Linked DNA regions of Homo sapiens. The protein of the gene in region 3 interacts with the protein of the main gene of each other region in a pairwise test. Each region holds a gene or a part of one and is shown on either strand. Other genes may lie near its edges. The genes, in order: SMYD1, FOXI1, USP54 and CCDC13.

The links.
Region 1: the proteins of USP54 (region 3) and SMYD1 interact in binary tests that used the Homo sapiens proteins (3 or more experiments, as listed by UniProt).
Region 2: the proteins of USP54 (region 3) and FOXI1 interact in binary tests that used the Homo sapiens proteins (3 or more experiments, as listed by UniProt).
Region 4: the proteins of USP54 (region 3) and CCDC13 interact in binary tests that used the Homo sapiens proteins (3 or more experiments, as listed by UniProt).

What each region holds. Positions count from the first base shown.
Region 1 is NC_000002.12:88,105,825-88,112,824, reverse strand, and holds part of SMYD1 (histone-lysine N-methyltransferase SMYD1), read right to left. Parts: intron 6,501-7,000; coding exon 6,337-6,500; intron 4,455-6,336; coding exon 4,286-4,454; intron 2,472-4,285; coding exon 2,313-2,471; 3' UTR 1-2,312. UniProt on the Homo sapiens protein: Methylates histone H3 at 'Lys-4' (H3K4me), seems able to perform both mono-, di-, and trimethylation. Acts as a transcriptional repressor. Essential for cardiomyocyte differentiation and cardiac morphogenesis.
Region 2 is NC_000005.10:170,101,705-170,108,912, reverse strand, and holds the start of FOXI1 (forkhead box protein I1), read right to left. Parts: upstream 3,017-7,208; 5' UTR 2,956-3,016; coding exon 2,382-2,955; intron 1,997-2,381; exon of another isoform or gene 1,852-1,996; intron 865-1,851; coding exon 302-864; 3' UTR 1-301. UniProt on the Homo sapiens protein: Transcriptional activator required for the development of normal hearing, sense of balance and kidney function.
Region 3 is NC_000010.11:73,511,312-73,518,343, reverse strand, and holds part of USP54 (ubiquitin carboxyl-terminal hydrolase 54), read left to right. Parts: intron 1-596; coding exon 597-1,969; intron 1,970-7,032.
Region 4 is NC_000003.12:42,770,254-42,778,010, forward strand, and holds the start of CCDC13 (coiled-coil domain-containing protein 13), read right to left. Parts: upstream 3,001-7,757; 5' UTR 2,923-3,000; intron 825-2,922; exon of another isoform or gene 359-824; intron 1-358. UniProt on the Homo sapiens protein: Required for primary cilia formation and promotes the localization of the ciliopathy protein BBS4 to both centriolar satellites and cilia.

The DNA.
Region 1 (7,000 bases), on a different chromosome or scaffold from region 3:
GGACCAGCGAAGGAACCTGAGAAACTAGATCAGAAGATCATCACAGGGAAGTGGGTCACCAAAATCAATGGCTGGGAGTGATGATTGACATCGAAAGGCCAAATCACATAGGAACTAAAATGTACCCATTAGATTTGATCTTGGTAAGAGCCCTTTTAGTGAAGGAGTGGGAGTGGAAGTCAATCTGCAATGGATTCAAGAAGAAATGCAAAGTGAAGAAAGGCAGATGATAACTATACAACTAAAAAAAACTCAGTCATGAAGATTAAGATCCAAGAGTTCTCAGCATTTTTACTGATTGCACCTGAGAAGGCCAGTGGGGTGACAAATGTCAAGGATCCAGGATGGAGAAGCAATAATAGATGGAGCAAAGTCTGGGGGTCAAAGCAGGGGAAGGGATCCAGAGTACATTCCAAAGGGAAGAAGGACTTGCATTCCAGTGGTCTGAGAGGGAAGGAGGAGCACAGACACAGAACACAGTTTGTTAAAGACAACAAATATTAGAAAGATAGGATGGAAAAAAAGACTACGAATATGGGGAAATGACCAGGGGCTTAGCAGATAACAATGACAAAGAAGGGAAAAAGGTTTGGGGGAGACATTTTATATGAAGGTAAAAGAGTGATAATTTGAACTAGCCAGTTAGATCCCTGGGAGAAAGTTAGTGCCGTCCCTAAGCCTGTGATGTGGGGGCTTGAAAGACTATCAGTCTTCTTGTAAAACCTTCCAGAAAGGAAATTCTTCAAACAAGACCTAAGTGTCAGATACAAGTATTTTGCAAAAGTGTGGCCCATTTGCAGAGTTTTCAGCCACTGGGTAGTGCTCAGAGGGACACAGCAGGTCATCATGTGGTGAGGATGGAGAAGCTAACATTTAGGCAGAGATAACAAACGTGGGACCTGGTGGGATCAATTTACTTCAAGATGTGGGGTACAGCTCTGAGGTCAATGGTAGTCCTGGGTTGTGTAGAAGTCTTGGTGACACCCCAAACTGAAGGGATCTTTTCCAGGATCTCCCAAAACATTGGTGAGAAATTTGGGGTCTCAGTAGATAACAGGATAACAGGCTAATCTTGGGACTGGTTGATTCTCAAGACCCTCATTTCTTAGATGGAAATCACAACAGCCTTCCAGGAGATCGGGATAAATTGGCCACACCTCTGAACAGGGTCTAACCCAGGTGTACAAGAATCCAGATTCAAATGTTCTTTCTGGTGAGAAGAGCAGAAGCCCCCAGGGCATGACAGAAAAAGAAACTCAACAAGGGAAGTAATAATTATTCAGTATTGAGAATGGAGCTTCATGGGGGCCCATGATAGAGTCTAAGCTGGTAAAGACCACCCAGGCACATGTAACCAAATAAAGCCCCCAAGGGCCAATTCTGCAGGGCCCATGATCAACAGGTATGTGTGTTTCCAAGATTCTCTCTCAGCTTCACTTTGAAAATATTTTTTAAATCCTACTAGGCAAATAGCCAGAAAAATATCAGACATTATCTAAAATCACAGGGAACCACAAGGCTTGGTAATAAGGGTGATAGAGGGACTTATTCCCTCTCTGTGTGTTCTAGAAATATTTCTAGAATTCTAGTTGGAACCCAGACTTTTTTTCCCTGGACTTTAAGACCTCAGTTGGTTTGGGCAAGGCCCCCAGCCAGCTCTTTCGACATATGCACCATTCTGAAGTGGTTTCAGGTCTCTGAGTAGAGCCTACGTGGCCCAAACACAGCCCCTTCTTCAAAACTCCACACCAACCACACAGTATCACATATCCTGCTCAGCCAATTGTGTCTACTGCAGACCACAGGTGAGACCAGCAGCCCCAGAGACACCTGCACAGATGGGTGAGCAGCCACCTGAGACTCCAGGCACCTGCTACCCTCAACTCAGATGTCATACTCTCTGTGATACCCCCACTGCACACACACACATCACACACCAGACACATTCCCTCCTCTGCACCCTCCTCCATATAGTTTATAATTGCATTTATTATTACAGTGTGCTTTAAATGTTTCTCTACATTTTGCTTCCCCACCCAACGACATTTGGAGCTCCTTTATTGGGTTCTAGGGCCTATCATCCAATAATATTTGTAGGAGGAGTTGATCTGGGCTGGGCTAGAGTTAACTTGAATTGAATAGACTTGAATTGAGCCAAAATGGCTCTGGGAAACATAGGGCAGTAAATTCTCACAGCAACAATGTTAAGCATTACCTCAACTTCCTCATTAGGGGTCTCCCGAGAGACCCACCACCTCCAGAGTCTCTCCCTAGCTCCCCAGCCACATCGCCCCTCCTCCACTGGGCAGTCCTCATTGCTTCTTGTGGAACAGAGCTGGGGATGGCTCATTGCTGGGCTCGGCCATGACCTGCATGGGCTGGTTGTTCAGGGCAGCCTCGCGCATCTTGTAGTACATGAATTCGTTCTGGCGGAACATGCGTAGCTCCATCTCCGTCTGCACCCGCATGGCCTGTGGGACACAGATACACCGTAAACAGTGATAGCAAGCCCCTAGGACATGCTGGTCTCTGATATACCTTGGGGTAAATTATTTCCAGCCACGGAGATTCAACTCTACCCCCTCAGAATACACACACACACACACACACACACACACACACACTCATTCATCAAGGGCCTAATGTCCTGGCAGTGGGCCCACTTTGTCAGGGAGAGGGAGTCAGAACCCTGAGAGAGTAGCTGAAGGAACCGTTCTCAGAAAAGAATGCTTGTTCCCAGGAACTGCCCAGTGGGGACCTGGATTTGAACCCTGGCCCCTGCAGATACTAGTGTGGGACCTCAGGCAAGAGACATAATCGCTTCAGCCGTCAGTTTTCTCACCCATTTTGTGGCTTCATACCTTACCGTGGGTTGGGAAGATGACAGTGTGTGACACACAGAAGAGCCCTCATCCTCCCACATGTCCATTCAAGAAATACTTCTTAAGGGCCAGGCATTCAGAGGCCGAGGATACAGCTGTGAGTAAAATTGACAAAGGCTCTGCCTTTGACAGGCTCGGTACCCTAAACATAAAGCTAGTTAGTCCGCTTCTCTGCCCCTCACTTGGTCCTCCTGCCAATTTTAAGGGGCTAATATATTATTTCCATTTTATAGATGAGGAAACCTGGGATCTGAATAGTAAGAGGACATCCATGTCTGAGACCACGCCAGTCCTAAATGTCATAGTCATCCTACATTTTATAACACCAAAGTCTGTCCACCTTCCCTAGACTGTACTGTCTGAGGACAGCCCTGTCACTCTCAAATAAACCAGCTTTTCAAAGCACCAAGGACATCAGCAGCACCATTTGCCAGGCACTAAGTGCATTTCACACATTGACTCATGAACACGCATCACAACCCTATCCTTTCCCCCTATTTTACTGATGAGGAGACTGACAGCCATACATTCAATATTTGCAAAATCACACAACCAGAAAGCGGTGAAGCTGGAACTCAACCTGGAGGTCTGATTCCAGAGCCTGTGATCCCTAACTCCACTCCATGTTACACAGAATACTTTCTAATATAAATGGCTGTGTGCATGCACACACGCACACATGCACACCCCATTGTTTACGCTTCCTCAGTCCAGGCTTGGGGTGTTATGATTCAACAGACTCAGGCTTCAAGTCTTAGCTTTGCCATTAGCTCGCTATGTGACTATGGACAGATTGTCCTCCTTCCCTGGGCCTCAGTTTCCTCATGTGTGAAGCAAGGTGATATGGTTTGGATATCTGTCCCTTCCAAATCTCACATTGAAATGTGATCCCCAGTGTTGGAGGTGGGGCCTGGTAGACGTGCTTGAGTCATGGGAGCAGATCCCTCGTGAATTGCTTAGTGCCACCCACTTGGTAGGAGTGAGTTGTCGCTCTGAGTTCACACCAGATCTGCTTGTTGAAAAAAGCCTGGCACCTCTGCCTCTCTCTCTTGCTCCCTCTTTCATCAGGTGACACACTGGCTCCCTTTCCCTCCTGGCATGATTAGAAGCTTCCTGAGGCCCTCACCAGAAGCAGATGCCAGCACCACACTTCCTATACAGTCTGCAGAACCATGAACCAACATAAGCCTCTTTTCTTTATAAATTACCCAGTCTCAGGTATTCATTTAGGGTAACATGAACAGTCTAACACACAAGGGTAGTGGGCTAAAGCGTTTCTGAGTTCCCTTTTGTCTAGCTGGGAGTATGTGGACTTTTCTAAAGCAGAGTCCACCTGAACTCACACTCCCATCCTCAGAAAGCTCAGGCCAGGAAGGGAACACCAGCCTCAAGACGCTACTTGCCTCTAAGTCCTTAGTGATGGGGTGGGAGGGTCCGTGTGTCACCAGGAGAATGGCATAGGCTTTGCAGATCATCCCGTGCCCCACCTCAATGTTACCAGCATGCCAGTTGGTCAGCCCTGCCCGCATCACGGCCATGCCCAGTTGGGCATTGTTGGGGTGGTAGAGCTTCCTGTGGGAGCATAGCAGATAATTATACATCATACCAATCACCCTTATATCTGCACTTAATTTAATAATGTATAAAGTGCCCTTGTTGATTAAGCCCATCTGTCTTCCCCTCAGCACTGCAAGGCTTCTGTAGCCGCCAAGGGGGAACTGAGGCACAGAGATATGGAACAAGTTGCCAAACATTCTACACAGTGAGGCTGTGACAGCTGAAACTCCGGCCTGGGCTGCCCAGCCAACTCCTTGTGAGAAAAAGGGACCAGGATCATACTTTCTGAGCTTGGGGACTCTAGCCAAGATGGCCGAATAGGAACAGCTCCAGTCTACAGCTCCCAGCGTCAGCGACGCAGAAGACGAATGATTTCTGCATTTTCAACTGAGGTACCAGGTTAATCTCACTGGGGATTGTCGGACAGTGGGTGCAGGACAGTGGGTGCAGCGCACCGAGTGTAAGCCGAAGCAGGGCAAGGCATGACCTCACCTGGGAAGTGCAAGGGGTCAGGGAATTCCCTTTCCAAACCAAGGAAAGGGGTGACAGACAGCACCTGGAAAATTGGGTCACTCCCACCCTAATACTGCGCTTTTCCAATGGTCTTAGCAAATGGTACCCCAGGAGATTATATCCCACGCCTCGCTCGGAGGGTCCTACACCCATGGAGCCTCGCTCATTGCTAGCACAGCAGTCTGAGATCAAACTGCAAGGCGGCAGCGAGGCTGGGGGAGGGGCGCCCGCCATTGCTGAGGCTTGAGTAGGTAAACAAAGCCGCTGGGAAGCTCGAACTGGGAGGAGCCCACTGCAGCTCAAGGAGGCCTCCCTGCCTCTGTAGACTCCATATTATCTGAGCTTGAGCACAGGAAGCTCACAGCATTTGGGAGTACCTCAGACGTCTCCCCAAAAAGTGGTAGGAAGGTCAAGGGAGAAAAAAATAATTTAAATGTCCTTTTTGAGACAGCATTGTATTTTCACCTGGTTGGCACCCTTTTGCAGGGCTTCCTTAGCATGTTGTACAGTTTATCTACATTTTGTTTATGACTAACATCCTCTCAAAGAAATGAACGTGTGTCAACTTATTTGGCCAGAAACACAAATTTGCATGACAACATAAACACAGAAAGCAAGAGAGGGTATTGGCAGATGGAAGGCAAGGGAATTGAATTTTACAATTTTTTTTTTTTGAGACAGTCTTGCTCTGTCGCCCAGGCTGGAGTGCAGTGGCGCAGTCTAGGCTCACTGCAAGCTCCGCCTCCCAGGTTCACGCCATTCTCCTGCCTCAGCCTCCCAAGTAGCTGGGACTACAGGTGCCCTCCACCATGCCTGACTAATTTTTTGTATTTTTTAATAGAGACGGGGTTTCACCATGTTAGCCGGGATGGTCTCTATCTCCCCACCTCGTGATCCTCCCGCCTCGGCCTCCCAAAATGCTGGGATTACAGGCGTGAGCCACCGCGCCTGGCCAGAATTTTACAATTTTTAAGCAAAGTGATTGATGGCTCTTTTAAAAATAAATAAATAAATAAATAAAAGCTCCTAGACTTGCCTGTGTTGATTACAGGGTGGAGGGCAGGGTCCAATCACTTAAAATCAAGCTGGGGTTAGCCTGAAGGAAGTCAAAAGCAGAAGATGCCACCCAAGTGATAGATGTGCTGGAGAATTTGGGAAAGACCAGGGATGACAAATAGGTTTCATCTCAAGCACAAACTCTGATTGGTCATTAACACTGGAGCACCATGATAAAAAGACTCAGTCAAAAAGAGAACCATGATGGATTACTGACGCCTGCTGTGGGTATAGGAGGGAGAGGCACCAGTAAATGTGCCATCTATTTGCCATCCCTGGAATACACACACTTCCAGGAGACTATCTGAGACCTAGAATCGTCACCTACATATAGCCGTCCACCATCCTCCTGGCATAGAACGAGGCCTCCTCAAAGGCCTGGAGGTAGGAAAGGACCTCCGAAACAATGCTCAGCATCCGCAGCATGTAGATGTTGGTGTCAGCAAACACTGGCTCCTGCTTCTCCAGGCACTCCCGGCATAATTTCACAACCTAGAGTGAGACAGAGGCCCTGCCCATTACCATTGCACCAGAGCACACGTTTAATTCACATACGCGACCATCATGGTGATACCAGACAATCATTCTTTTTAAGACTGGGGCAATTGCTGACAGAGGTGGGAAAGCACAGGTTTGGGGTATGAATTGCAAAGTGGTCCTGTTGGCTAAGGTGTAAGAATGGGAAGGGTAATGGTGTGAGACATGGCAGATGCAGCACAGCGAGGAGTTTCCAAAATCAATAGGTAGCAGGAAGCTATGAAAGCTATACATACACACACACACAAACACACACATATATGTACAGTCAGATCTGTATATGCACAAGTTCCACATCCATGGATTCAACCCACTGCAGGTCAAATATATATATATATTTCGAGACAAGAGTCTCACTCCATTGCCCAGGCTGAAGTGCAGTGGCTCAGTCTCAGCTCACTGCAACCTCCCCGTCTTAGCTTCAAGCGATTCTCCTGCCTCAGTCTCCTGAGTAG
Region 2 (7,208 bases), on a different chromosome or scaffold from region 3:
CCTTACGGGGTGACTGTCAATAGTAAGTGTGGCCAGTACAGAGCCTAGTACAGCACCTGCCACTGTTAGTGCTGCTCTGCAGGCACCAGTATTTCTATTGCAAAGTTGGTGAGTCTGTGTGTGGGCCTATGTGTGATAAACAGAAGCCTTAACCAGTGTTCTAGAAAGAGGGTGGATTCCTCGGAGGCTCCTGCTTATGTCTGGGCAGTTCCGCAGTCATGGACCACCGTGGGGCTGGCATGGAGGACCTCTACTGCTTTTCTCTCTGGCATGTCCACCTGGCTCAGGAGCTGTTCTGTACCTAGACCTCGGTGCCCTCCCTGGGGTAGAGGACACCACTGGTGTTGACACTGTTGTAGAAGTGAGGGCTGAATTGGCTGAGCACAGATCCTCCATAGCTGAGCATGTTGGTGGGCATGGGGTTCGCCCAGTCACCCCCACCGCTGTGGTTGCTGAGGTTGGTGAGCGGGGAGAAGGAGTTGAAGGTCAGTGAGTTCTGCCCCGTCTTGTCACTGGGCTCAGGGCTCAGTCCTGGTGTGACCAAGGGGTGGCTCGTGGGGCTCCCCCCGCTCACATAGGCTGTCATAGAGGAAAGGAAGCTGTTAAGGCAAGGGGCGCCTGATGGGGGAGGGGAGGGCCGCTTCTCTGGGGAGCTGGTGGTGCCCCCTGGTGAGGCTCCATCCAAGATGTCCTGAGGCTCCGTGGTCTTGGGGCTGTCCACCGGGAGACTGCTCTCTGTCTTCTCTAAGGCCAAGGAGGCTGTGCTAGAGGAAACATCTGATTTTCTCTTCCTTTTCCTGCGGAAATTTCCATTGTCGAACATTTTCTCACAGTTGGGGTCCAGGGTCCAGTAATTCCCTTTGCCTGATACAAAAGTGAAAGGGGGTAAATAGAGAGGTGGACAAAATGCTTTGCTTCTGTTCCTCCTTATTGTCATAAACTAAAAGCCAAGGTGACAGATGCAGGAAGACAGAGACCGACAGGCAGGGACTGAGAAATGGAGGAATTCCATCAACTGATGAACCACACCACCTCCATCTTTAATTAAGCAGCCCATGACAGGGCCCTTTGGGACTGCAGCCGAGAGGCATGAGCATTAAGGAGTTTGCAATGTAGGTCTCTTTAAGAAGGATGAAGAACTGGGAGCAGGGATGCTGAGGGATTTGGGGGTTGGGGGTTGGAGGGCTTTCAATGCTGAAGGAAAAGAAGACTCAGGAAAACTCTGGGACTCCCTAATAGCCGTAGGCTTGGAGTCTGAAGACAGACTTGAGTCCTGGCTTTGCTCCTCACTGACTGAGGGGCTTTGGAAGAACCTGTTTTCTAGTCTGAAAAGTGGGCCCATTGCCCCTGTCTTCCTCAGGCCCACTGAGAAAGGATCCACACCGGATATGGAAAGGAGCGTTGCAGCTGGGAGGTACCTTCCCGAGGGAAGGCCTGAACTCTTCCTGCTACCGTCTCTCAGCCTGAGGGTGATGGCAGTCCTTGGACAGGACACTTGCCCTCTTCTGGGGACAAACAGGCCTGGTGTTTGCCACCCTCAAATGGGGCAGAGTTGGGGTTCCTTTGAGCTATACCTTGGCTTCCTGCGGTGGAACAAAAGTGGACTTTAATTCTGGGAAATGGATGCATGAGTATTTAATACATGCCTCTCTGCAGGTCTCTGAGTTTTAGAAATGCATCGTTGAAAAGGAAAAGCTCACAATTTCTGATGTTAGAGAAAACTGAGTTCAAATTCAAGCTCCATCACTATCACTTCATTCTGTGTCACCTCTGAGTGTTATTTTCCTAATCTGTAGAATGGGTTTCATAAGAGCTACCCTGCAGGGGTGTCTTCGGGTTAAAGGAGGTTACCTAAGTAGAAACAAGGCAGGCAGCAAAATGGGCCATTAGTGGCTGTTTAACCCAGGTCAGATCCTCTTCCTGGCAGTCTTGGGATGCCCTTGGGCTTTGGTTGGTCCAGTCATTCATTCACCAAAGACTTTCTATGTGCTGGGTGCTGGAGATGCAGATGAATCGTAATTACTGCAGGCGATTAAGCGCTTGATAACACCTAAAACCTTGTGTACATTATCTCATCACCTCCACTGCAGCCTGCAAAGCAGATGCTGTCACTATCCCTGGTTTTCCGATGAGGGAACTGAGGCTCTGAGGTCTAACCTGCCAGAGGTCACTGACTGGGCAGGAGCACAGCCAGGGCTGAAACCCAAATCTTCCCCCAGGCCCATGCTCTCCTTCACTGCTGAGCTCCCCTCTGTCCTGCCTGGTAGCATCCCCCAGTCTTGGGGGGCACAGCCCTAGTCAGAACTTTCTAGAATGGGGTCTTGGGGAGGAAGGAAGTGAGTCTTCCTTGGGGACACCCCCCACACTCAAAGCCTCCTTACCCGGGTCGTCCTCGTCGCGGGGCACCTTCTTGAAGCAGTCGTTGAGCGACAGGTTGTGGCGGATGGAGTTCTGCCAGCCGGCCTTGCTCTTGTTGTAGAAGGGGAAGTTGTCGGCCACGTACTGGTAGATCTGGCTGAGAGTGAGGCGCTTGTCGGGTGCCCCGTGGATGGCCATGGCGATGAGAGCCGAGTAGGAATAGGGTGGCCGCACCAGCTTCATCAGCTCCTCCTGCGAGGGGATGGGCAGCCAGCCCAGGTCGCTCCCCCCAAGCCCCGACACGCTGGGCAGCAGCGGCCTCTGCACTCCATAGGCCTGGGGCAGGAAGGGGCTGGCGTTGGGGCCGGGCAGGTAGGGTGGCGGGGTCATGGTGGGCCCGTTGAACCAGAGGTAGGGGTTGGGGGTGGCCCCATACTCGCCGCCCCCCTCGAAGGAGGGCCGCTGAGGGCTGGGCACGCCCTGTGGGTGGAAGAAGTTCTCATAGTAGAGGTTCATCTCGGGGGGCTCCTGGCCGATGCTGGGGAACTGGGGGCTGCAGCGAGGTGGGGAGGGCGCCGGCAGGTCGAAGGAGCTCATGCTGGGGCTGGGCTGGCCGGAGCCACCTGCCTGGCACCTGCACCCCGGAGCTGCCCCTGACAGGTGCTCAGCAGGCCCGGCCTCCCACTTATACCCCTAGGGCTTGGCCGGGCGGCCCCACCCAGGGGCGGCCACCTGCCTGTGGATCCCAGCCCAGGGCCCGCCCTCCCTCAGCCTCCAGCCCACGGGGAGGGGACTTTCCCGCTGGCGCCTCAGGTCCCCACTAATGACATGCTAGACGGCTTACCAGAGCTGACACGCAGCGCAGCGAGAACGCCCCTCTATCCTCTCTCCCGGCTTTCTCTCCTGTCTTTTCTCACCATCCTCATGATTCCCTTCTTCTTTTTCTCCTTTATTCTGTCTTACTTCTCTCATTTTTTTTTCTGTCCTTCCCTTTCGTCACATTTTTCTACCCACCTCGGTTTCCTTCTCTCTCTCCCTCCTCTCCTCTCTGCATCTCATTCTCTGTTTCTTTCCTTCTTATTTTCTTTCCTCCCTTCTGCTCTGAACTGTGTTTCTTTTCTATGAACTGATCTGGCCACATCACAGCTGCTCATTCCCGTTCTCTCTCTCTCTCTCTCTCTCTCCCCCTCCCTCTCTCCCTCTCTCCCTCTGTCTCTAGGCTTCCAGTTCTTCTTTCCACTTCCATCTCTCGCTTCCATTCTCATTGTCTTCCCGGCTTCTCCCCTTTCTCCTTCTCTTTCACTCTGTCCCTTTCTCTCCACCTCTCATTTTCTCTGCGCCTCTCTTCCCATCCCCTCATTCTCCCTCCTCTTCCCCCCAATGTCCCCTCATTCTCTAACCAACTGCCCCAGCCGGGACTGGGTGGGACACTTTATCAGAAACCCTGTTTCTTGGTCTTTTGAGGTGAGGAGGCACTTTCTGGAGTTGCCAGGAGAGAACCGGCCCTGGAGACTCAGAAGAGGGCGCAGAGGGGCCTGGGCTGGCTTCTGGTGGGGTTCAAGGGGGCAACCAGTCATAGGCACCGCAGCCTCCCCCAACACACACATACACGCACACACGCGTACGCGCACACGCACACACGCGCACACGCACACGCGCACGCCCACACACGCGCACACGCCCACGCACGCACGCGCACACACGCACGCACACACACACGCATATGCATACATGCTGCAGACGGGCAGAGAACCTGAGAATTTGCCTGGAGAGCAGCAAGGCTCTTAAAAATAATAGCAAAAGGGGAAAATGGGGAATCAGTCTTCAGGGAAAAGTGAGAGAACTTGAACAATTCAAGTTTCTTTCCAGCTGCAGGGCAAGCAGGCTCCCAGCTCCTCTCTGATCCAAAGACCTTTCATGTTTCAGCTCGCAGAGGCCCCTGGCATGGAGGCAGCCAGGGCACGAGGAGAGCGCCCGACTCACCATGCCCCAGGCGTCCTCTCTCTCTCTCCCTCAGGCTCCAGAAGCAGGAGCTGCAGCCCCTGCTGGCTTCTCCCTGTGGCTCAGCCAGCTCCTCTCCTATCTGGGCTCCATCCTCCATCTTGTCCCAGCCTCCCCTGGTGCCCCAGGTCAGGCCCTCAGCTTGGGCCATGGGTGGTGGTCTCCCTACTCAGAGGGTAGGCGCTGGCCCCTGACCAGGTTCTGGTAGCAGCTGAGACTTCTCTCTGTGATGAAGCAGATGGGAGAAAAGTTGGGGTCAGCCCCTCTGGTCACCACCTCGCTCCCGCTTGCCTCCTTCTTCTTCCCATCCAGCTTCCTCCCACTTCCTGCATGCCCTACTTTCTTTGAGGCAAGAGAAAGAGGTCACTGACTGTCCCAACTGGAGAGGATGCTCCCCAAAGAATTCTTCCCCTCTCTGCTCCTCTTTCATGGTTATGTGGGGACACATGTGGCAAACATGAATGAGACTGAATAAACTTCATTTTCAGCATATTGGTGCCCAGAGGATGAGTTCCAGGTAACTGGGTAGGAGTGGTCATGTTAGGCCCAGAGGAACCTGTCCCCACCATAAAACAGTGATGAAATGTGACTCTCTGAAAGGCTCTGGCTGTCCAGATGAGGCTTAGAGTAAGGCACACTTTGCAGAGCCAAGCCAGAGGCAGAATTTTTGTTTGGTACAGTTTCTCTATGAGGAGGCCTGGCTTGCTGAAGGTGGAGCCCTGACTTTTCAAAGAGCAGTCACATTGGAGTCCCCTAGTACAGACTCAAAGCCTTACAATTAACCTAGCAATTTCACTTCTCAAAGCTTATCTTACAAAATTCAACAGAGCAAAGAATTAGCCACAGGGATGCCCACCACAGCATTGTTTATAGCGGTGAAAAATTGTAACTAATCTAAATGCCCAACAGTAGGGGATTGGCTAAATAGTGTATCATCCAAATGATGTAATATTATGCAACTATGAAAAATAGATTCTGGAAAAATAACTAATGATATGAAAAGATGTTTATGTTCTCATGATATTATTTGGAGAAACAGGTTGCAAAATGCCATGAGATTTTTTTTTAGTACAAATATGTATTTATAATTGTATATGAAATCTAGAAACATAAATATCAAACTGCCAATTATTATTTCTGGATGAAGAATTGGATGCAATTTTTGTTGTTGTTTTTCCGTAGTTTCTGATTTAAATGATTAGAGAAAGGCAAGCACACAGGTGACTTGCTTTTGGGGTTAAATTTGAAAGGCTAAAAACAGATAATATAGCAGAGACGTAGCAAACACAGGCTCTGAGATCAGGAGGACCTGGCTGCAAATCCCAACCTTGGTATTGCAAATCCCAACCTTGGGATCACTGCAGGCCCTGACAAGTGATCTAGCTTTTCTCAGCCTCAGTGTTTTCTGGTGAAAAAGGGAACGATGCCAGTACTTAACTCACGAAGTTGCAGTGAGCATTCAGTGAGGTAGTCAGTGTAATCAATGTCAATCATTTCACATGGCACATACAGGCTCACTCAATAAATATTAGTTATTATAGATTATAGTCAGTATACATTTGCTGTGTACAATCAAGCACACCTATGTTTGCTACACTGAGAGTTAATCGCATGCAGCATGCAGCAGGGATGTGACAGGGATTATGATGCAAAAACAGAGGGAGAAATATTCAGCGTAGACACCGATTCTATAACCAGACTCTACATTTACAGATGACAATCAGAGAGGGCCCAGAGTCACACAAGTTCATGGCTGGGTCAGGACCCACTCTGCCCCACTTTGGCGTCTCCTGCTTTAGCGGCATTTTCTGAGGAATGCTGAACTGGGTCTCCCTAGCTGCATGTGGACCCTAGTTCCTTTCCCCCAGTAGATCAGAGAAAGCCTGGCCTGTCTTAGGAGGCCTTATTCACCGGGAGCCTCTGGCACCCAGAGCCCAGTAGCTGGGGATCACAGCTTCTCTGCACTTGGTCACAAGGTTAAACCTTCGGGCCAGGGTGTCCAAAGCATCCCAGAGGACCCTTCATTCCAGATTTGTAGGAACACTGGCTATAGCCCTTGGGGTGGACAACAGGAGCTAGCTGTTCCCACCCCGCAGTGAGGTTTGAGAGTTATGGTCCTGCAGCCCGCCTTGACCATCCTAGGGCCTCCGGGAAAAGAATCAAATGTCTCTAACAACTAGGGTCATTTTGTGAATGAAATTATTTTAAACTTTTTGAAATTTCTAGAAGTGAAAATTCAAACCTGAGAAGATGCGCTCTGCCCAGCTTCAGGGAAATAATAATAGAATAATAAATAAAAAATAAGAGTAAGAGTTGGGTGTGTGAGGGCCTGAGCCTGCCTAGGGAATGCTTGGGATGCAGTTTGCATACTACAGTCCAGAGGGAGGCCTTCTTGGACATGAAAGACCATATATTCTGTATATTCTGAACCCCAAATTGTGACATTTGGGACAAAGCAGTAAAACATGGAACACGTGGGCCTGAGGATTGCATAGAACTGGGTTCAAATCCCAGCTTCGCTCTTTGGTAGCCTTGTGATCTTGGCCAAGTTTCTTAATCTTACAAGGCCTCCGTTTGTTTATCAATAAAGTGAGGATGAAACTAGAATCCGTCTCATGTGGATTTGGAAGGAAAAAGTAATATAAATGTGTAAGTAAAATGTGGAGCCCATGATCTGCAAAAGCTGCAGATCATGAGGATGATGATGAATGCAAGGGTACCTGAGGCCAGATATTGACACGGGAGAGGGTTCTGGGCAGGAGGCCTGGCATCATAGCCTCCTCCAAGCAACGTTCAACCATTTGCTTTCCCCTTGGGAAAATCCTGCCATCTGGGAGCCATGCCCCCGA
Region 3 (7,032 bases):
GGGAAACATCTCAGTGACTAATAGAACAAAATCCAGATTATAAAAACATATTTGAAATGGTTAATTTCTGTGTATTCCCATGAGCCCAAATCACCCTGTATTTTGTAAATGTGGCCTCATAGTTCCTTTGGCCGGGCTGCCTCTCAGGACCCCAGGTAGGACTTGCCTCCCTGTATAGCATCCTGGATTTTTGCTGTTTGGTATGAGTGATTTTCAGGCTTTGCTTACCTTCCATGTCATCTGCATGTGAGACTAGCTGATTTTGTTTCCTAATTTGCAAGTAGAATGTGATTGGAATGCGACTTCACAGGTAGTGAAGAATATTGGCAAGGGCTCCACTTAATGTTACTGTGCAACTTTGGTGAGGGTGTTTAATAAAGAGGATTAACGTTACCTATTTACCTGAGTGTGAGCTGACCATGTGCCTTTTCTTTTGTGATCCTCTGAACTACTGACTCTACTTGTGCTTGTCTTTCTGTTTATTTTTACCATTCCCTGTGTGAATAGCTAGAAATGGGAATGGAATGTTGAGTTCTTTCTGTAAGTGTTCCTGTCAGTCAAGGCAGCTTATGACTAGCTCTCTCCATTTGTTTCAGTGAACAGCCTATCCCGCTCCAAGTATTGTTAAGCCAAGAGGCCCAACTGGAATCCGGCATGGATACAGAGTTTGGGGCCAGTTCTTTCTTCCATTCACCTGCTTCCTGCCATGAGTCACACTCATCACTATCTCCAGAGTCATCTGCCCCACAGCACAGCTCCCCCAGTAGATCTGCCTTGAAGCTTCTGACTTCGGTTGAAGTAGACAACATTGAACCCTCTGCATTCCACAGGCAAGGTTTACCTAAAGCACCAGGGTGGACTGAGAAGAATTCTCATCATAGTTGGGAGCCATTGGATGCCCCAGAGGGTAAGCTGCAAGGCTCTAGGTGTGACAACAGCAGTTGCAGCAAGCTCCCTCCACAAGAAGGAAGAGGCATTGCTCAAGAACAGCTGTTCCAAGAAAAGAAGGATCCTGCTAACCCCTCCCCGGTGATGCCTGGAATAGCCACCTCTGAGAGGGGTGATGAACACAGCCTAGGCTGTAGTCCTTCAAATTCATCAGCTCAGCCCAGCCTTCCCCTGTATAGAACCTGCCACCCCATAATGCCTGTTGCTTCTTCATTTGTGCTTCACTGTCCTGATCCTGTGCAGAAAACTAACCAATGCCTCCAAGGCCAAAGCCTCAAAACTTCATTGACTTTAAAAGTGGACAGAGGCAGTGAGGAGACCTATAGGCCAGAGTTTCCCAGCACAAAGGGGCTTGTCCGTTCTCTGGCTGAGCAGTTCCAGAGGATGCAGGGTGTCTCCATGAGGGATAGTACAGGTTTCAAGGATAGAAGTTTGTCAGGTAGTCTAAGGAAGAACTCTTCCCCTTCTGATTCTAAGCCTCCTTTCTCACAGGGTCAAGAGAAAGGCCACTGGCCATGGGCAAAGCAACAATCCTCTCTGGAGGGTGGGGATAGACCACTTTCCTGGGAAGAGTCCACTGAACATTCTTCTCTTGCCTTAAACTCTGGGCTGCCTAATGGTGAAACTTCTAGCGGAGGACAGCCCAGGTTGGCAGAGCCAGACATATACCAAGAGAAGCTGTCCCAAGTGAGAGATGTTAGGTCTAAGGATCTGGGCAGCAGTACTGACTTGGGGACTTCCTTGCCTTTGGATTCCTGGGTGAATATCACAAGGTTCTGTGATTCTCAGCTTAAGCATGGGGCACCTAGGCCAGGAATGAAGTCCTCCCCTCATGATTCCCATACGTGTGTAACCTATCCAGAGAGAAATCACATCCTTTTGCATCCACATTGGAACCAAGACACAGAGCAGGAGACCTCAGAATTGGAGTCTCTGTATCAGGCCAGTCTTCAGGCTTCTCAAGCTGGCTGTTCTGGATGGGGGCAGCAGGATACCGCCTGGCACCCACTTAGCCAAACAGGTAAGAATGCAACCAGGGGTTGGGGGGAGGGGGGAGGATCATATAAAAGCTGAAAGCAGGGAAAGATCAGAAGGGAGTGTTCTATACAGATACTATCCCCAGCTTAGTAGGAGGTAATAGAACTTTTGACTTTACTCAGAAAGCCTTCAGGACAAGACCTAGACATTTTTCTGGCTAGAGTGGAGGAAGGGGCAGAATTACCACTCATAGGCAACTTCCCTCCTTCTAAAGTAAGAGATTACTAAGTATTTGCCCATGGCTTCTCCAGTATGCTGTGCTAAAGAATGGTTCAGGGCCGGGCACGGTGGCTCACTCCTGTAATCCCAGCACTTTGGGAGGTCGAGGCGGGCAGATCACAAGGTCAGGAGATCGAGACCATCCTGGCCAACATAGTGAAACCCCTTCTCTACTAAAAATACAGAAAATTAGCCGGGCGTGGTGGTACTTGCCTGTAGTCCCAGCTACTCGGGAGGCTGAGGCAGGGAAATCACTTGAATTCGGGAGGCAGAGGTTACAGTGAGCTGAGATCGCACCACTGCACTCCAACCTGGGTAACAGAATGAGACTCCGTTTCAAAAAAAAAAAAAAAAAAAGAATGGTTCATAGGTGTTTGAGAGTGATTCAGCATGACAGCATGAAATGGAGGGAGGCTGAGAGGAAAATATATTCTTCTATGGCTTAGAATCCCAAGATTCAGCCTCCAGGTCTGCTTTGCAGTAGGATGTCCATATGCTCAGTGTGGACATTTCCAGATCATACTGAACCAGCAATATCAAGACCTTCCTGATCCCTTTAGGAAAAGTCAAGTTTGGTGTTCAAGGAATTTTTAATGTACTATATGCCTACAGGGTAGCCACTGACTGAGATAATACAGAGTGAAGAGTAGAGCCTGCACCTGAAGTGCACATCATAGTCAGTTCTGGAAATTGAAGACATGAAGAATGTTTGTAACTTACATTGATGCACTTAACTCCAAAGCCTGAACTATTTTCCTGATTCCAACATTAACTCTCAGTATAAATTTGGACAAGTCACTTAATATCCCAGGGCCAAGGTTTTACCTGTAAAATGAGAGAACTGGCTTTTTTTTTAAAAAAAGATATGTTCTAACTCTAAAATGGCATGTATGATTCTGTGAAATTGAACTTGGAGAACTTTTCCTTAGCTTGGCTGTGACAGTTTCTGTAATGGTGCAGGTTCCTTGCATGCTGACAACCAACATATAATTACAGTTGAGTAAGTGTTTATTGAGTACTTACTGTGTTCTCCAGAGCCTTTGAGGGGAATACCACATAAATATAAGATTTGATTTTTTATTCATTTTTTTTTTTTTCTGAGAAGAGTTGCACTCCTGTTGCCCAGGCTGGAGTGCAATGGCGTGATCTCAGCTCACTGCAACCTCCGCCTCCCGGGTTCAAGTGATTCTCCTGCCTCAGCCTCCCAAGTAGCTGAGATTACAGGCGTCCACCACCACACCTGGCTAACTCTTGTATTTTTAGTAGAGACAGGGTTTCACCACGTTGGCCAGGCTGGTCTTGAACTCCTGACCTCAGGTGATCCCCCCGCCTCAGCCTCCCAAAGTGCTGGGATTAAAGGTGTGAGCCACCGTGCCTGTCCTAAGACTTGATATTAAGATACATTTCTGAGGATCCGTATCCTAATGTAGATTTTACAATAACATTTACTAAGGTGGTCTTTGATAGGACTGGTTGATATGGGAAGAATCTAAAGAATAAGGGAAAGCTGGAGTCTGCCTCAGTGAGCTTTCTATCTAAGGAAGCAAGAATACACAAATAATTTTTTTTTTTTTTTGAGACAGAGTCTCGCTCTGTTGCCCAGGCTGGAGTGCAGTGACGTGATCTCAGCTCACTGCAACCTCTGCCTCCTGGGTTCAGGCCACTTCTCCTGCCTCAGCCTCCCGAGTAGCTGGGATTACAGGTGTGTGCCACCACGCCCAGCTAATTTTTATATTTTTAGTAGAGATGGGGTTCACCATGTTGGCCAGGCTCATCTCGAAGCCCTAACCTCAAGTGATCCACTCGCCTTGGCCTCCCAAAGTGCAGGGATTATACACGTGAGCCACCGTGCCAGGCCACAAGTAATTATTTTAAGAATAATAAGGCCAGGCATGGTGGCTCATGCCTGTAATCCCAGCACTTGGGAGGCGGAGGTGGGCGGATCATGAGGTCAGGAGATTGAGACCATCCTGGCTAACATGATGAAACCCCGTCTCTACTAAAAATACACACAAAAAAATTAGCTGGGCACGGTGGCCCACACCTGTGATCCCAGCATTTTGGGAGGCCGAGGCAGGTGGATCACCCAAGGTCAGGAGTTCAAGACCAGCCTGGCCAACATGGTGAGACCCTGTCTCTATTATAAATACAAAAAATTAGCTGGGCATGGTGGCGGGCACCTGTAATCCCAGCTATTTGGGGGGCTGATGGCAGGAGAATTGCTTGAACCCAGGAGGTGGAGGTTGCAGTGAACTGAGATTGTGCCACTGCATTCTAACCTGGGCGACAGACCAAGACTCTATCTCAAAACCAAAAACAAAAAAAAATTTGTATTACCCAAAATAGCAACATTTTTCATTGCAGGTAGTTTGAAAATACATAAAGTATCAAAAATCACTGATAATCTCACTCTTAATGTTTTCATAAGCTTACCTTTGGTTTTCATTTTTATACACATGTACTATATAGTTTTGTTTTTGCAAAAAGCAGTATCCTTTACACTATATGTATACAGTTTAGTATCATGACTTTCTCATGTTATATCTGTGAGCATTTGCTGTAAAAACTACCTTTAATGGTTATAAAGTGTTTCATATGAATGTACTGTAATTTATTTCTTCAACCATCCTACTATTGTTGAATATTTAGGTTACTTACAATTTTTTTTTTTTTTTTGAGGCAGTCTCGCTCTGTCATCCAGGCTGGAGTACAGTTGCACAACCTTGGCTCACTGCAACCTCCGCCTCCCGGGTTCAAGCAATTCTTCTGCCTCAGCCTCCCGAGTAGCTGGAACCATAGGCGTGTGCCACCAAGCCTGGCTAATTTTTTGTATTTTTAGTAGAGAAGGGGTTTCACCATGTTGGCCAGGCTGGTCTCGAACTCCTGGCCTCAAGTAATCCGCCTGCGTCAGCCTCCCAAAGTGCTGGGACTATAAAGTGAGAAGTGACTATAAGGTGAGCCACCGCTCCTGGCTTACTTGTAATTTTTAATAACATAGTACTGTGTTGAATATCTTTGCACTTAAGTGGTCACGTTTCTCATGAGCTCCTTAGAATAACCTTTTAGAAGACTAATAACTAGTTGAATGTTATAAACTTTTTTTTTTTCATTTTTGAGACAGGGTCTCATGTTGTTGTCTTGGCTGGAGTGCAGTGACATGATCACAGCTCACTGTAGCCTTGACCTTCTTGGCTCAAGAGATCCTCCCACCTCAGCCCCTTGAGTAGTTGGGACTACAGGCATGCACTACCATACCTGACTAATTTGAATGTTATAAACTTAAAAAAAATATTGATACATACTGGCCAGTTAGCTTTGAAGAAGACTATACTTCTGAAAACAGTATGAAAGAGTACTTACTGACCATTAATTTTTTTGTCTAGTAGTGTAAAGAAACAAATTTTTAAAAATCTATCTAGTAGTCAATCTATTCTCAATATATTTATCAAATCAAGCGGAGCATGATGACTCATGCCTGTAACCCCAGCTACTTGGGAGACTGAGGCAGGAAAATCACTTGAGGCCAGGAGCTTCAGGCTGTAGTGTGCTATGAGCACATGCCTGTGAACAGCCACTCTCCTCCAGCCTGGGCAACACAGTGAGACCCTATCTCTTAAAAAAAAAAAGTAAAATCAAACTAGTCTTTATTTTTGTTAGAGTCCTTGGTTTAAAAACTGAGTCCTTAAGAAGTGACATGACAGGCTGGGTGCAGTGGCTCACACCTGTAATACCAGCACTTTGAGAAGCCAAGGTGTGAGGATCACTTGAGCCCAGGAGTTCAAGACCAGCTGGGCAACACAGTAAGATCCCCATCTCTACAAAGACTGAGAAAATTAGCTGGGTGTGGTGGTGCGGGTCAGTAGTCCAGCTACTTGGGAGGCTGAAGCAGGAGGATCAACTGAGACTGGGAGGTTGAGGCTGCGGCGAGCTGTGGTCATGCTACTGCGCTCCAGCCTGAGCAACAGAACAAGACCCTGTCTCAAAAAAAAGAGGAGTGATATGACATAGAATAAAGAAGTGATCAGATAGAATTAATTGGGAAGTAGATGAAGGAAAATGCCAATTAGGATTCACATATGAAAAAATATAATTTGGCCAGGTGCGGTGGCTCACGCCTGTAATCCCAGCACTTTGGGAGGCTGAGTCGGGTGGATCACCTGAGGTCAGGAGTTCGAGACCAGCCTGACCAACGTGGTGAAACCCCATCTCTACTAAAAATACAAAAAAAATTAGCCGGGTATTGTGGCACGTGCCTGTAATCCCAGCTACTCGGGAGGCTGAGGCAGGAGAATTGCTTGAACCCAGGAGATGGAGGTTGCAGTGAGCCGAGATCACGCCACTGCACTCCAGCCTGGGTGACAAGAGTGAAACTGTCTCAAAAAAAAAAAAGAAAAAATATAATTTGAGAGTTCTTTATCTTATTGTAAAACATTTATTAAGCACCAAATTACATTACTTTTTAAAATTTATTTATTTTTTGAGACAGAGTCTCGCTCTGTTGCCCAGGCTGGAGTGCAGTGGCACAACCTCAGCTCACTGCAACCTCCGTCTCCCAGGTTCAAGCGATTCTCGTGCTTCAGCCTCCCAAGTAGCTGGGATTACAGGCATGTGCCACCACACCTGACTAATTTTTGTATATTTTGTAGAGACGGGGTTTCACCATGTTGCCCAGGCTGGTCTCAAACTCTGAGCTCAAGCAATCCACCTGCCTCAGCTTCCCAAAGTGCTGGGATTACAGGTGTGAGCCACCACGCCCGGCCACCAAATTAGTTTTTCAAAAAATGCTAAAAAAAAAAAAATGCTTTATTGATATGTAATTTACATGCC
Region 4 (7,757 bases), on a different chromosome or scaffold from region 3:
TTTGTGAATGCACCAATCGGCACTCTGTATCTAGCTAATCTGGTGGGGACTTTGAGAATCTTTATGTCTAGCTAAGGGATTGTGAATACACCAATCGGCACTCTGTATCTAGCTCAAGGTTTGTAAATGCACCAATTGACATTCTGTATCTAGTTGATCTAGTGGGGAAGTGGAAAACTTTTGTGTCTAGCTCAGCAATTGTAAATGCACCAATCAGCACCCTGTCAAAACGGACCAATCAGCTCTCTGTAAAACAGACCAATGGGCTCTCTGTAAAATGGACCAATCAGCAGGATGTGGGTGGGGCCAGATAAGAGAATAAAAGCAGGCTGCCCCAGGCAGCAGTGGCAACCTGCTGAGGTCCCCTTCCACACTGTTGAAGCTTTGTTCTTTTGCTCTTTGCACTAAATCTTGCTACTGCTCACTCTTTGGGTCCACACTGCTTTTATGAGCTGTAACACTCACCGTGAAGGTCTGCAGCTTCACTCCTGAAGCCAGCAAGACCACGAACCCACCAGGAGGAATGAACAACTCCAGACGCACCACCCTAAGAGCTGTAACACTCACCGCGAAGGTCTGCAGCTTCACTCCTGAGCCAGCGAGACCATGAACCCACCAAAAGGAAGAAACTCTGAACACATCTTGACATCAGAAGGAAGAAACAAACTCCAGACACGCCACCTTTAAGAACTGTAATAACACTCACCGCGAGGGTCTGCGGCTTTGTTCTTGAAGTCAGTGAGACCAAGAACCCACAATTCTGGACTCAATAACTTTATTCATAATTACCAAAAATGAGAAAAAAACAAGATGTACTTCAATAGGTGAGTAGATAACCTGGTACACTCATACCGGTGAATATTATTCAGTGATGAAAAGAAATGAGCTATCACGCCACGAAAAGACATGAAAGAAACCTAAATGTGTATTGTTAAGTGAAGAAGCCGGTCTGAAAAGGCTACATGCTGTATAATTGCAAACTGTATAATATTCTGAAAAAGGCAAAATTACAGAGAAGTAAAAGATACCAGTGATTGTAAATCCCTTCTAAATGAAAAATATCAGTGGTTTCCAGGGGTTGGTGGGAAGGAACAATGAACAGTAAAGCCTAGGGGGTTTTTGGGGAGGTGAAACTGTTCTGTATACTTTACTGGTGGATACACAGCATTACACATTTAGCAAAACTTGTAGACCTGTGCAACCTTAAGCAATGAACACTGGCCAGGTGTGATGACTCACACCTGTAATCTCAACACTCTACGAAGCCAAGGTGGGAGGACCACTTGAGGCCAGGAGTTTGAGACCAGCTTGGGCAACATAGCAAGACCATAGCTTTACAAAAAATAAAAAAATTAGCTGGGCATGGTGGCATGTGCCTGTGTTCCCAGTTACTCAGGAGGCTGAGGTGGGAGGATTGCTTGAGCCCAGGGGTTGGAGGCTACTGTGAGCCATGATCATGCCACCGCACTCCAGCCTGGGTGACAAAGTGAGACCCTGTCTCAATACAGCAGCAGCAACAACAACAACAGATGAACTCTAATGTAAACTATGGACTTTAGTTAGTAATAACATACCAGTATAGTTGTATCAATGATAACAAATGTACCACACCAATGCAATGTGTAAGATGTTAACAACAGAGGAAATGGGAATACGGAATACATAAAGGAACTGTTTTTTGTTTAATGCTTCTAAAAATCTGCTTTAAGTCTATTTTCTTTTAAAAGTAAAGGCTAAGCCGGGCGTGGTGGCTCATGCGTGTAATCCCAAAACTTTGGGAGGCTGAGGTGGGTGGATCACCTGAGGTCAGGAGTTTGAGACCAGCCTGGCCAACATGGTGAAACCCCATCTCTACTAAAAATACCAAAATTAGCCAGGCATGGTGGCGGGCGCCTGTAATCCCAGCTACTCGAGCCCAAGGCAGGAGAATCGCTTGAACCTGGGAGGCAGAGGTTGCAATGAGCCAAGATCGCGCTACTGCACTCCAGCCTGGGCGATAGAGCGAGACTCCGTCAAAAAAAAAAAAAAAAAAAAAAAGTAATAATAAAAAAAATAAAGTAAAGGCTAGAGCTGCATGGAAAGAACTCTTGGCTCAGGTAGGACTTAGAGCCAGGGAGTAGGAAGAGTGGCATGCACTCTGGAGTCCTATGAGGAAGCAAGATCCCACAGGATATGGGACCATAGGTGACAGGGACCAGTGAGGAAGGATTGAGACCCCTTGCCCCATCGGCCTGCCACTTTTTTCATTGTTTTTCTCTTCCCCTCTCCTTCTCTTTCTTCTTTTCTTTTACTGTGTTCTTTTCGAGTATTCTCAACAACAGTCTAGGGGCCTGGAGGTGTGGGGAGGCCGCCCACGGATGCCTAGTTTGGCGCTCTGTGCACTGCTAGCATCTTCGTAGGGATGGGTTTGGGATGGGAGCGGGGTGATGCTCTGGTTCTCAGGGCTGGACTCCGGGCTTGGAGGGGAACTCCCTCTTGCGAGTCCCCAGTCCTGTGGGGGCTGGGCCTGGAAGGGGAACTGGGAGATGCGGAAGTGCACGCCGTCGGGTCGCATCTTTCAGTGCGGTGCGAGAGGGCCCAGTGGCAGAGGCCCAGCAAACAGCGCTTGTCAGGCGGACCTGAGTTCGAGTTCTGACTGTGCCATCTACGCTATGACTTTGGGGCAGGCGACCCACCCTCTGCGCCTCATTAACCCATGTACTGCATGGAAAATAAGCGTCTGCCTGGGTTAGAAGAGGGCTGTGTGTGAAGATTCAAAGGACGAAGGGGAAGAGTCCTCGCTGGGCGCCCAGCACGCGGTGAGCGCCCGGCCAGTGGCAGCGCGCTCGGGCTGGGGTTGCGCTCGGGCTCGGTTCCGCGCCCCCGGCAGCTGCGGGCTTTCCCAGCTCCGGCCCGGGCCCTTCCGCTCTCCCCGGCACTTACAGCGGTCTCTCTCCACTTCTCCCTTCTAGGACCGCGGCGGCTAGGTCACCTCCTCCGGACGCCGACACGCGCTGCCCTGGCAACCGTCACCAGGGAAACAAGCGACGTCACTTGCGCGTTTTCAACGCTACTCTACGGGGGCCGAGGGGGCGCCAAGAGTTCTGAAAGTGACAGAGGCGCTGATGGCGCGCTGGGCTGGATCCAAGCGAGCACGATCTCGAGTGCGCTGGAGATTTTAAATCTTCTGGAGTATATTTTTAAAAAAGTTTTGTGGACCAAACGTTCTGCACAGAGATGCCCATTCCGCTCTCCTGTTGGGGAGTTAAAAAGCGAACGATCTCACCATGAAATTTAAAGTAGCCATTCAGATATATTTGAAAAATGTAAAACAGTGTGGGGAAAGGCCATGTTATGATGGTGAGTGAAGGAAGCAGGACGCAATATAGCAATGCTAAATAAATAAAGTTGTGTTTATTTCAAACTAGGCACTAAAACAAGACCGAAATAGAAATATTAAAAGTGGTTATATTTGGGTGGTGGAATAGCAGTGCTGTGTTTTTATTTTTACACTTTAGAGAATTTTTAAAATAATGAACATCGTTTATTTTCATAAAGGAAAATACTTGTTTTTTTTTTTTTAAATGGCACCTTCCAATGTAAGACACTACTATATTTCAGGGCAATATGGGGGTGGGAGGCAAATTTCTAGGAAAGATGATTCAAGGGAGATTTCTTTCTATCTATCTATCTATCTAATCTATCTATCTATCTATGATAGAGTCTCGCTGTGTCGCCCAGGCTGGAGTGCAGTGGTGCGATCTCAGCTCATTGCAACCTCCATTTCCCAGGTTCAAGCGATTCTCCTGCCTCAGCCTCCTGAGTAGCTGGGATTACAGGCACCCGCCACCACACCTGGCTAATTTTTTTATTTTTAGTGGAGACGGGGTTTCACCATGTTGACCAGGCTGGTCTTGAACTCCTGACCTCAGGTGATCCGCCCACCTTGGCCTCCTAAAGTGCCGGGATTACAGGCGTGAGCCACAGCTCCTGCCCAAATATTTATCCAGGACTTCATAATTTGAAAACCTTGGCAGTTGTTTTTCTATTTTTTTTCCTCATAAGGTGAATGAATACCCATCCCATAGACATGCATACATAAGATACGGCACTAGACTGCCATCAGCACTGCAGGTATAAACCCGAAGTTTCCTGATAAAGGAAAAATGGATCTTTCCCGTTGGTCTCCAATTGCTGCCTGGTGAGCTGAGGGTGGGAGACGTATAATATACAGGTGGCAGCAAAGAGAGACAGGATAAAGAGTAGGATTCAGGTAGATGTGAGCCTCAAAGGATTAGGGTTTTTTTTAAATGGTGTGTGTAGTGGGGAGTATCATTCGTTTGCCTCATGACCACGATGGGACTATGTGGCATAGGAAAAGGAATAGCCAGGTCTACTTAGAGGGCTTCTGGAAAGCATGGATCCTAGCAGAAAGCCAGGTTTTCATTAAAATAAGAACATGCTGTGAGAAAATTAAGGATGCAAGAGAATTTCAGAACCGACATTCTAGAATGTATGTATTAGAAAGTTTGGGAAAGGGGTAACATTTGCTCCAGCAATCCAAGGATTATTTTTGACGAGGATATCATTTTTGCAGTAACCCATTTTTTAAAAAGCAGGGATGATTTTCCTCTAGGTTTGTTACTTTTCCACGGTCACCACTAAGGCTCTCATGCCATTTTTTTTTTCTGCCCAAAATTCTTTTGAGAATTTTCTTTAGTTTATAAGCTTGACATTTTATCATCCAAGAAGCTGGCGAATCCAATCTGGGTCACCAGTATTTCCTCATGTACAGTATACAGATGTTTGTTAATTCCAGCCCACTTTGTTTCTCTAGCCAGAAGTATCTGTAGGACACTGCCCTTTGTTTTTTGCTTTTTAATTTGAAATTATATTGAGATTTTTATAGAATCACATGCAGTTGTAAAAAATAATAGAGATCCCCTGTATACTTTTCCAGTTCTCCACAATGATATTTTGCAGAACTTTAGTATAATATTACAACCAGGATATTGACATCGATACAACCTACTCCTCTTAGATTTCTCCAATTTAACTGTACTTTTCTTTTGATTTATCACGTGTCAGTTTGTGTATCCATGACCATCAAGATATCAAATACTAGCCGGGCATGGTGACTCATGCACGCCTATAATCCCAGCATTTTGGGATGCTGAGGCAGGCAGATCACTTGAGGCCAGGAGTTCAAGACCAGCCTGGTCAACATGGCAAAATCCTATATCTACTAAAAATAACAAAAATTAGCCAGGCATAGTGGTGCTTGCCTGTAATCCCAGCTACTTGGGAGGCTGAGGCATGAGAATCGCTTGAACTCAGGAAGTGGAGGTTGCAGTGAGCTGAGATCGCGCCATTACACTCCAGCCTGGGCGACAAGAGTGAGACTCTGTCTCAAAAAAAAAAAAAGATACCAAATACTATCACAAGGATCTCTCTGTTGTGATTTTATGACTATGTACACTTCCCTCCCTCCTCCTGCCCTAGTCCCTAACCCTTTACAACCACCAGTCTGCCCTCCATTTCTAAAATTTTGTCATTTCAAAAATGTTATATAAATGAAATAACTCAGCATGTACACTTTTTAGGATGGATTTTTTTTTTTTTTTACTCAGAACAATTCCTTGGAGATTCATCCAAGTTGTTGTGTGTATCAATAATCCATTCCTTTTTATTGCTGAGTAGTTCTAGTATGAATGTACCAGTTTGTTTAACCATTTACCCACTGAAAGACATCTGGGTTGTTTCCAGTTAGGAGCAATTATGATTCAGCTGCTATAAACATTCATGTATAGGTTTTTGTGTGAACATAAGTTTTCATTCCTATGGAATAAATGCCCAAGAGTGCAATTGCTGTGTAGTATGGTAACTGCATATCTAGTTTTAGAAGAAATTGCCAAACCTGTTTTCCAGAGTGACTGTTCCACTTTACATTCTTACCAGAAATGTTTAAGTGACACAGTTTCTTCACATCCTTGCCAGCATTTGATGTCACTATTTTTATTTTAGTCATTTTAATAGGTGTGTAGTGATATCATTGTGGTTCTAATGTACGTGACGGATAATGATATTGAACATCTTTTTCATGTGCTTATTTGTCATCTGTATATTTTCTTTGGTGAAGTGTCTGTTCATGTCTTTTGCCCAATTTCTAACTGTCGAGTTTTGAGAATTCTTTATATATTCTATATACTAGTCCGTTGTTGGATACGTAGTTTGCAAATACTTTCTCCGAATCTGTAGTTCATCTTTTAATCCTCTTCACTTGGGCTTTCACAGAACAAAAGGCTTTGATTTTGACAAGGTCCAATTTATCAATTCCTTCTTTAATGGATTGTGCTTTTGATTTCAAGTCTAAGAAAGAACTCTTTGCCTAGCCCTGGGTCCCAAAGATTTCCCCCCATTTTTATAAAAGTGTTAGAGTTTTATGCCCATGATTTATTTTGATGTAATTTTTATATAAAGGTATGAAATTTAGATCAAGGTTCTTTTTTGCTTTTTTGCCTATGGTGTCCAGTTGTTCCAGCACCATTTGTTGGAAAGCTATGCTTCCTCCATTGAATTGCTTTTGCACCTTTGTCAAAAATCAGGTTAGCTATCTCAACAACAAAACCCAATTCAAAAATGGGCAAAGGACTTCAATAGACATTAATCCAAAGAAGATATACAAATGGCAAATAAGCACATGAAAACATGCCCAACATCACTAACCATTAGAGAAATGCAAACCAAAACCACGAGATACCATTTCACACCCATTAGGATGGATATTATCCAAAAAATGGAAAATAACAAGTGTTTGCCAGGATGTGAAGAATTTGGAACCCTTATGTAGAGCTAGTGGGAATGTAAAATGGTATATCCACTGTAGAAAACAGTTTGGTGGTTCCTCAAAAAGTTAAACATTGAATTACCGTATGATTTACAATTCCACTTCTAAATATATGCCCGAAAGATTTGAAAGAAGGGACTTGGCCAGACACAGTGTCTCATGCCTGTAATCCCAGCCCTTTGGGAGGCTGAGGTAGAGGACTGCTTGAGGCCAGGAACTCGAGACCAGCCTGGTCACCATAGCGAGACCTTGTCTCTACAAAAAAAGTAATAATAAAAAATAAAGAAGGGACTCAAACAGGTAATTGTATGCCAGTGTTCATAGCAGCATTATTCACGATAGCCAGAAGGTAGAAACAACCCAAGCAACCTTCAACAGATGAATGAGTAAACAAAAGGTGGTATATATACTCCACAGAATATTCAGCCTTAGAAAAGAATGAAATTCTGAATTCTGGATGAACCTTGAAAACATTATGCTAAGTGAAATAAGCCAGACACAAAATGGCAAATATTGTACGATTCCATGTATATTAGGTACCTAGAATGAACAAATTCATAGAGACAGAAAGTAGAATAGAGGATGCTAGGGAGTGGAAGAACGGGGCAAGTAGAGAGGTTTGGGGGTTTTTGTTTGTTTTTGAGACAGGGTCTCGCTCTATCGCCCAGGCTGGAATGCAGTCGTGCAATGACAGCTCACTACAGCCTCAACCACCTGGGCTCAGGTTATCTTCCCACCTTAGCATCCCAAGTAGTTGGGACCACAGGCTCGCACCACCACACCGAGCTAATTTTTGTATTTTTTGTAGAGATGGTGTTTCGCCATGTTGCCCAGGTTGATCTCGAACTCCTGGGCTCAAGCGATCTGCCTTGACCTCCCAAAGTGCTAGGATTATAGGTGTGAGCCACCACATCCAACCAGAAGTTATTCT